3 separate regions of the Homo sapiens genome follow, and all the other regions are linked to region 3. The links come from fine-mapping of genetic effects on gene expression. A gene starts in region 3. Each other region holds a variant in brackets. All regions are shown on one strand. Distances are from middle to middle. Region 1 holds the start of MIR4520-1 (microRNA 4520-1). Region 2 overlaps KIAA0753. Region 3 holds the start of PITPNM3 (PITPNM family member 3).

The links. PIP is the estimated chance that this variant, and not a neighbour inherited with it, causes the effect.
Region 1: its variant is fine-mapped to the expression of PITPNM3 in testis (GTEx, PIP above 0.99).
Region 2: its variant is fine-mapped to the expression of PITPNM3 in whole blood (TOPMed, PIP above 0.99). The same link has a PIP of 0.9 or more in testis.

Annotation. Positions count from the first base shown.
Region 1 is chr17:6,653,312-6,656,068 of GRCh38, reverse strand. C17orf100 (chromosome 17 open reading frame 100) reads right to left here. Exons shown (of 1, transcript NM_001105520.2): 1 at 2,593-2,757. MIR4520-1 (microRNA 4520-1) reads left to right here and starts at 560; the gene lies at 560-629. MIR4520-2 (microRNA 4520-2) reads right to left here and starts at 620; the gene lies at 567-620. RefSeq lists an enhancer at 390-962. The variant TGG/G (reference allele first, on the strand shown) is at 1,253.
Region 2 is chr17:6,576,449-6,579,182 of GRCh38, reverse strand. KIAA0753 reads left to right here. Exons shown (of 19, transcript NM_014804.3): 19 at 1-1,036. Among named protein-coding and RNA genes, the nearest start is that of PITPNM3, 21 kb to the right of the region's middle. The variant A/G (reference allele first, on the strand shown) is at 1,009.
Region 3 is chr17:6,555,092-6,557,848 of GRCh38, reverse strand. It overlaps PITPNM3 (PITPNM family member 3), which reads left to right and starts at 1,294. Exons shown (of 20, transcript NM_031220.4): 1 at 1,294-1,464. The coding sequence starts at 1,443. RefSeq lists an enhancer at 2,383-2,757.

The sequences.
Region 1 (2,757 bases), 98 kb before region 3:
CAGGGTCTAGAACTGACTGCGCCGGATTCTTGTTTAGAGGGAGGTGAAGAGAGGAAGGAGGCGCGGGTGACACCGGGGGAGGCAGGAGGAGAGGGCTGGGAGGTGGGGAGAGGGGAGGACCTCATCCGGGCATGTTGCTTTGACGTTCCCTGAGACAGACATCCGGATTTGGCGATCTGGGAGAGAGCTAGAGCAGTGATGGGAATTTGGGCTTTCGCGGAAGAAAAAAAGTAACAGGACCGGGTAGAACACCCGGTAGATATGACATGAGATATGACGGGAGGTGGGTCGGGAAATCGAGAGCGTTCTCCTGTCTTGACTCCCCATCCCTTCCCTCTCACCACCCACTCCACCCCAGGTGATAAAGCCTGAAAGGTAGAGATCCAACAGCGCTAGCGGTTGAAACGTTTTTTAAAATAGAGAAAGCGAGAGGACCGACGGCGGCTCCGGTGACTGCTGAGTTTCCAGACAAGGGAGCTCTGTGCAATGAGGGGCGCACAGGAGCATGCCCTCAATTCCAAGAAGATCAGGTAGCCGGAAAATTTATTAAGCGCTTACTGTGTGCCACCTGCGTGTTTTCTGTCCAAATCAGAAAAGGATTTGGACAGAAAACACGCAGGAAGAAGGAATCAACCCCTGGTACAGCAGGCAGGCGAGGTAGGGGTAGGAGTTATGCACGTGTATGCAAGCCTGGATGGCTGGGAAGCCAACCTCCATCTAAAGGCAAGCGCGGACATGCACACACACACACACGCCTCACAAGTTGGATTGCAAGAGAGGGTGAAGTGGGCGAGGAGACCCAGTCAGCCGTGGCATTTGAGGAAGGTACATTTAGGCCACCGAATTCATTCCACCAACTTTGCACACTTGTCTTCCTTGTGCCAGGCTCTGGGACTCATTCCTTTTGAGGGTAAAAGTCTGCCTCCCTGGACTCCTGCCCCTCAGGCGCTCCCACAGCCCGGCACCGCCCCCTCGCCATTCCGGAGCCAGCGCGGGCTAAGCGGGCCTGGCCGGGGATGAGCGGAGCCACCGTCCCCATATTCCTCGGTGCCCCGGGACCGCAAGAGGGAGCCGTGGTTTCCGGAACTCCTCCCGCCCCTCCGGGCTTTTCCTCTGTTAGGCAGGTGGCGATTCGCTGTCTTTGCCTGTTATGGCCGCTGCCGTCGCCCTGGAGACAGGTGAGTAGCGCTCTGAGCCTGGAGTCTTCGCAGATAGAACTCTCCTTGGCCCAGACCTCTTCTCCCGCTTCCCC[TGG/G]GCCTCCTTCCAGGCCTCACTCCCGGCAGGATTAGTATTTGGACAGGGAGGAGAGAAGGCTCTTGCAGCGTCTAGAAAGGCTAAGGTACTCTGCAGTTTTCCTAATTTGGTTTGTTCGCACACCTTTGCTATTCAAACACGACCCCACCAGCTTCCCAGCGTGGGCGAGACTAAGGGAGAGGACTTGTGTCTTAAAGCGTGTCCTCCTTGTGTCTTAAAGCGTGTCCTTGATTGGTTTTCTGCTTCTCACATGAGCTTGCATACGTTTGAAATATCGTCGCCAGACCTGTGTATCATTGTGTTACTTGTGATTCTTATATATGCATATGTTCCATCATCTTTTAGGCTCTCTGGAGTCTCTTGTTCAGCTTGCATCCTAAGTTTTTCTTAACTGATTCAGCACGTGCTTTTGCGAAACTTAATCACTGTTAACAATTGTTACAATGCATTATTAAAATAGGGGAAGCCACAGTTATTACAGCCTACCTTAGAGATCACTGTTAAAATTCCTACATAGTGGCCCATGAGTGGTAGGTATTGTGTCTCATTTGTGTTGCTGTTTTCTTTGATGATTTCTCTTTACTTTTAAAGGTAACCCTCTTCCATGACTGTTCCTTAAAGTGGTGCGCTGTCCCAGTAGACCATGCTCTAGCTTTCCAAGCTGCTAGAACTGTCAGTGTTTCTCAGCCTTGGCACTATTGACATTTTGGGACCAGTGATTCTTCATCGTTGGCAGAGGGGAGGGTGTTGACCTGTGCACTGTAGGATGTCAGGTGGCATCCCCGGACTCTACCCGCTAGGTGCCAGTAGCACCTAATGTGCCACCCACCCCCTCCCAACAACTTTTCAACCAAACTAAAATGTCTCTAGAGGTTGCCATATATCCTCTGGGGGACAAAATCACACTTAGTTGAGAACCACTGTCCCACATTCTACACACAGAAGCCAAAAGGATATTTTTTAAATGTAAATGGCATCATGTCGTTCCCCTGTTGGAAACCCTTCAATGTTTTCCTGTTGACCTTAGAATAATCTCAAATTCCTTACTGTGGCTTAGAAGACCTTCTGTGGACTGGCCCCTGCTTGCTTTTAACTCCTCTCTTCCGTTCTGCTTCCATGTCTATATAATTGCTTCTCTCTCACTCCAGCCACACTGGCCTTCTTTCTGTTCCTTGAACATTCAAAGCTGGTTCCCATCCACCCTTTGTATTTGCTGTTCTTCTGCCTAGAATGCACCTGTTCCAGATCACTGTTCATTCACACATATCTCAGATTACATGTTAACTAATCAGCAAGGCCTTCCCTGACCATTTTATCAAAAGAAGCCACTTACTTCCATTCTCTATCACATTACCCATGTATTTCCTTCATAGTGCTAATCACAATAGAAAATTGTCTTGTTTCATCATTGCTTGTCTGCCTTTTCACCAGAGTGTAAGCTCCACTAGAGCTGGGACTTTGCCTTTTTTACTGCTATAGCCCAAGTTCCCAGAATACAGACAG
Region 2 (2,734 bases), 21 kb before region 3:
GCCCCCTGGCTGTCAGTGCACAATAATAGACACACATTTCTTCAACGTTCCATTCCTAGGTGATTTTCACATTTTTAGTTCCTCAGCATATTTTATTGCTGTGTGTTGACACAATCTGGTATAAAAAACTTTCTCTGGATTCAGAGGAAGTTTGAGGAATCAGGAGAGGACCAGGCCTTCTCCTGTGCCTGGGTGAAGGTACAGACCTCGCTGTGTCTCCGATGAGGTCAGAAGTGTCTCTATTTCATACCACAAAGGAACCCAAGTGGGAGTAGGGAACAGATGGATGGCGCGAAGACCTCTGTGTCTCCCCAGAGAAAGGAAGAAACTTAAGAACCATCATAGCCTGGTCCTCCAACATCTTACAGATCATGTTTTCCAAGAGAAAAGCCTGTGTTTTCAGAAACTCTGAATTCAGAAAAAGAAACGGAATGTGCGTAAGAATCAGGCCACTGCCTGGAAAGACTTTCTCTCAATTCGTAGCCTGAGGCTCAGTGAAGGAAACATGCAGAAAGAATGCCTGAGACGCCCCCAGGGAATAAGGGAACTCTTTATAACCTGTCCAGTGCCGTCATCTGGGATTTTTCTCTGAAGTACAAGAATTTCAGGTGATTTAAGCTGCTTGATCACACTTATTTGTGCAAAATTGATTTTCATTTAATGTTAATGTTTTCCTGCTTAATTTTATATAACTTCAGAATGTAAAGAGCTTCAAGGTAAATTACAGGGTGTTTAACCTGGGGAGTTAAATGTGTACACTTGAATTAATAGGAGCACCGGTTGTTGCTAGTATAAAGTAATTTGTGTGGCAGTTTGTACTGTGCTGAGTTTTTAAAATAAACCCAATATTTTAAAGTATGTGCCTATTTTAAATAACTTACATCTCCTTTTTTTCCCACAGGCAAAGTGAAATGTGATTTACAGAAACCACTGAGAATACTTTTATATGTGATATGACTATAGTGGATTATTTGCCACCCCTTCCCCCCGAGAAAAAAATTAGTGACA[A/G]TAAAAGCTAACATTTATTGAGCACCTACTAGAGCATTGCTCTCCGTGCTTGCCATGTAGTAACTTATTTAATCCTCACCTCATCTCTGTGAGGTGGAGAGCATCATTGTTCCCATTGTATAGATGAATAAAACGAGGCACAGGAGGAGATAATTTGACCAAACAAACTTGGAGTTTACCTGAGCTCATCTTCCTGCCTTTCCCTATCCCCACTCGGCGTGTGCTGGGGCAGTCCCATTCTCACACTTCCTGTTGCAGCTTGTGTCCTGAAAGGCCGAGCCCAGGCTTTGCCTTGTTTCAGGATCTTCCCACTCTCTCCTGCTCCTCCCACCAGGTGGATCTGCCTTTCTCTGACTCATGTGGGTGGAGCTTCAACCAGCCCCAGTGTCCAGGTGTCAACTTTATATCCCTGGCCCATCGCAAACATCCACAGCCAGAGCATTCTCCAAAGACACAAAAATATACTGCAAGAAATAAACATTTTTCTTTGCAAATGGAAGCTAAATCCTTAGAATATAAAAGTTCCCGTTTATCGCCTCGCAGCCAGCCCAGACATCTAGAATTTTTTGTTCTTCATGAACAAGGGCTGACCGTACATCATTCTGTAATTCCCTTCAGCTTTCTCACGAACTATTCGTGTACTATTTCAGAAGCAGAAACACACGAGTTCAGTGTTTTTGTGTTGCATACGCCGTCCCCAGTGTACAGAGACATGAAAATGCACTCCGAGCGCTCCACCGGCACAGCTTGGTCACACGGGATTTCTGTCTGTTTCTGTGCTTACCTCTAGTCTGTTTAGCTCCTTGAGGGCAGGGACCCTGCCTAGCTTGTAGTTGGTGCTCAGTAAATTCTTCTGAATTAATGAAAGGTGAAGGGCAGGCTGATTGACTTTATACGGGGGGGTCTGTCACATCTCATATAGTCCACAGAAATCTATGATGTCCTTTTGTGACCCCGAGATAGAATGCCATTTGAGAACTATAATTCCATCTTGGAGGTACTGCTGCCATTGCAATTCCAGCTCAGATGGCAAGAACTTGCTTCCTTCCTCCTAGAGCAGGGCATGGGCCTCAGCCTCATGCTGCTCCTGACCTTGAGCGAGCCTTGGTCAGGGTGCTCCTGGGGACTAAGCTGGGGCGGCCCAGGGACTGGAGAAGAAGACAGAAGGATGTGCATGGGAGCCCCTTGCCTCTTGTGTTCTGTTACTATTTCAGCACTGTGGTCCCTTCTCCCTCTGCCCGCCGGAGCTGGGGTTTGGAGGAGAGATGGTGAGGAGAGAAGCGCTTTCCTCACTCCACTTCCTCCCTGGGCTCACGGTTCCTGCTTTCCTGAAGGTGGTCCGAGTGTGTTTGTGTGTGTGTGTGTTGGGGGAGTGGGGGAGGTGGAGGCATGAACTGCACTGTGGCCAGTGGGTCTGAAAGGCAGAAGGAAGGGCCTGAGGGAAGCCCCAGGGCCAACAGCAAGAGGAAGGGTCCAAGTCAGAAAGTCCCCTGTGCTCTCTGTGACAGTGTAGGTTTCCATCACGCTTCTGTGTTTCTGAGAGGAGCTCTCTTTATTTTAGCAACGTGAGACAGTAGTGAGAATTCCCTGCAGAGCCTGTAAATTCAGGGGTGTCCACATCATCATGGGCTTATGATCACCACAGAAGTGACCTTTGGGAGGGGCCAGCCTGTGAAAGGGCTCCTGGTTCTCTGGGCTCTTGAAGAGCAGCAGAAGGGCAGTGGCC
Region 3 (2,757 bases):
ATGGATGGGACATGCGGGTTGTAGATTTCAGCTCAAACGAGTAAGAACATTCTTAAGGCCAGCACTAGCCAAAAAAAAAAAAAAAAAATTAATAAAAGGAAGAACTCTCACTTAAGATACTGAGCTTCCTGTCCTTGGAGGTAACCAACCAGGAGCTGGAGGACTGCTTAGCAGGAATCTTGTGAATGGAGTCAAAGCCCCAGAGAAGGCACTGGACTGAGAGCCCCCATCTAACCCCATGTGTGCCCTGTTTCCATAGAGGAGCTTGCAGGACCCTGGAGCCTGGACCATGGATGGAATTCTCCAGTTGACCTTTTCCCTGTTAAGTGGAGTGGGACAGGGTGGGTTGGGTGCCTGGCTCTACAGATGGTAACTGGGCTTCAGCCTTACCAATTCCTGGGGGAGGCAGGGCACCCTCTCAGTGGAGGGTTGTTACCTCTCAGGCACCGCCAAATACAATTGGCCATCTCCTGCTCTCTTTTGGGGCTGGACTGTGGATCCCTGCTGCCCCTAAACAGAAGTCATAACCCATATCTCCCCGGACCACAAGGCCTGTCCACTAGAATCTCTGCATCCCGATTTAGGAAGTGGAAGGCGGGTACTGCTCACCACCAGGCCGCTGGGGTCCACAAAGCCTGCTCCAGCCTAGAACCCCAGGTGGATGTGCAAGTGTTTTACTTATCCCTTGAGGGTTAAAATCACGGGAATCCTTTCTCTTTTGAGGTTAGGTCAGACGCCATAAATGATCCAGAACCCCTGGAGCGGGGGCTGATGGAGGGGGTCCCTCTCTTGTCTCTGATCCCAGAGCGACTTTCCTCTTGACTTCGTGGGGGCCTCCCTTGGATCCCTGTCCTCCTTCCTCTCTCCGCTCCCTCTGTCCGTCTCTCCCGGAGCCGGAGCCGGGCTCTGGGTCTCTGGTCTCCTCTGAATTTCTCTCTCTCTCCCTCCACCTCGGCGTTCTGGCCCTAGGAGCGTCTCTCTCCAGCGCTGTCTAATAGTCTGTGCGCCCCTCTCCCAGTCCAGGGCCCCGTCTCTGGCCCGCAGTGTCTCGGGCTGTCTCCGCGTCTCTGAGCCCCTGGGCTGCCGCCCCTCGCGCGCTGCGGTGGCCGCGCGGGCCGGAGCGGAGCGGGCTGGAGCGCGGCGGCCACGGCCCGGGGCGGGGGTGCGGGCCCGCGGGGGCGGCGTTGGGCGCCTTCCTTCGTCAGTCCCTCCCCGGCGGCGCGGGGGGTGGGGTGGGGGGGGGGCGCGGCCGCCGCTCGGCGCCTTTAAGGGAGCGGGAGGGAGCGGCGAGGCGGCGGCGGCTGCGGTGGCGGCAGCCGAGGCGAGCGGGGCGGGGGCGCGGGCGCGGCGCTCGGAGTCCGTTCGGGGCCGGAGGCGGTCGGGGCCGGGCCCGGGAAGCGCGAGGAGCGCGCGTAGCGCCGCCGGAGCCCGCCGCCCGGGACATGGCCAAGGCGGGCCGTGCAGGTGAGGGCGGGCGCGGGGAGGGCAGGGCCGGGGCCCGGGGGAGGGACTCGCGCGTCTAGAGGAGGGGCCGCCGGCCCAGGTGAACCCCTCGCGCAGGTGGGCGGAGGTCCCGGGAGGGCGTAGGGGGCGGTAGCGGGGCTGGACCTCCCGCGCGTGGAGAGGGGGCTCCGCGCGCCCCCCGTCCTTCCTGCGCCCCCGGTCACCTCGGGGGACACCGCGTCCCCTTCTCCACGGCCCCGCCGGAAAGGGCCAGGTCTGCGGCGCCCCGGGCCAGTCCCGCCGTTGGGAGCCCTCTGCACCCCGCGGAGGCCCCGGGCAGACCCGGGCTTCGCCACCGAAGGGGATGTCCCGCGGCCGCCGCTTCGTCCCACACCCCAACGCAAACCGGGACGCGCCCCCTGCTCCTGCAGCTCTCTCCATCCAGGACGCCACAACCCCCCGCCCCAGCCCCCGTCACCAGCTCAGTCCAGAGACCCAGATTCCTTCTCGGGAAGGAGGGGAGCCCCGTGCCGCGCCGGCTGCTGGCCGCCCCGCCCCCTCCCCCATCGACCCTGGGACGCAAAGCCTCAGCTGCGGAGGCCTCTTCTGGGGTCCCGTGGGCTCTGCCCTCCCCCAGGCTCAGACGGTGTAGCCTGTGGTTTGAGGGAGCGGGCATTAGTCATTCGTTCATTCATCCAGCCCGACGTTCATTCACTAGCATCTGCTCTGTGCCAGACCCTGAGCTGGGCACCGGGGCTCAGGCGGACTCAGCCCCCCTGCTGCGCCCATGCTGGGGAGACCCAGGCCCGTGACTCATCGGGCACATTCTGGGCCCGATGGTGCCTTGGGAGGCGGGTGGAGGACAGCTGTGCCCACAGGGCCGGCCATACAGTAGGCGGCAGCAAGCCTGGTCTCGGCAGTGCCTCTTGTGAGGCTGGCGTGTGAGAATCTACCATGAACTCACACCCAACCCGTGACGTTGGCTGGTGCCATGCCGTCCCCCAGGACCGGGCGCGACAGTGAAGGAATGGGTGTGAATACCATCGGGCTGTGTGTCAATCCACCCCCAAGCCCGAAAGCTGCCCGGGACCCTGGGCTGCGGACCCGTCTCCCTGTGCAGGCACTGAGCCTGTAAGATTTAGGTGCCTGAGAATGCACTCCCGTTCTGTCCCCAAGGAGTCCTGTCGGGGTGGGGCCGGTTGTGTGAGGCACAGCCAGTATGGAACACAGCTAAACAGCCTTCTCACTCCCCTCCCTTTTCCCCTCCTGAGGGAGGCACTGTGAGATGACACCAAGGAAGCTGAAAAAGGCTTC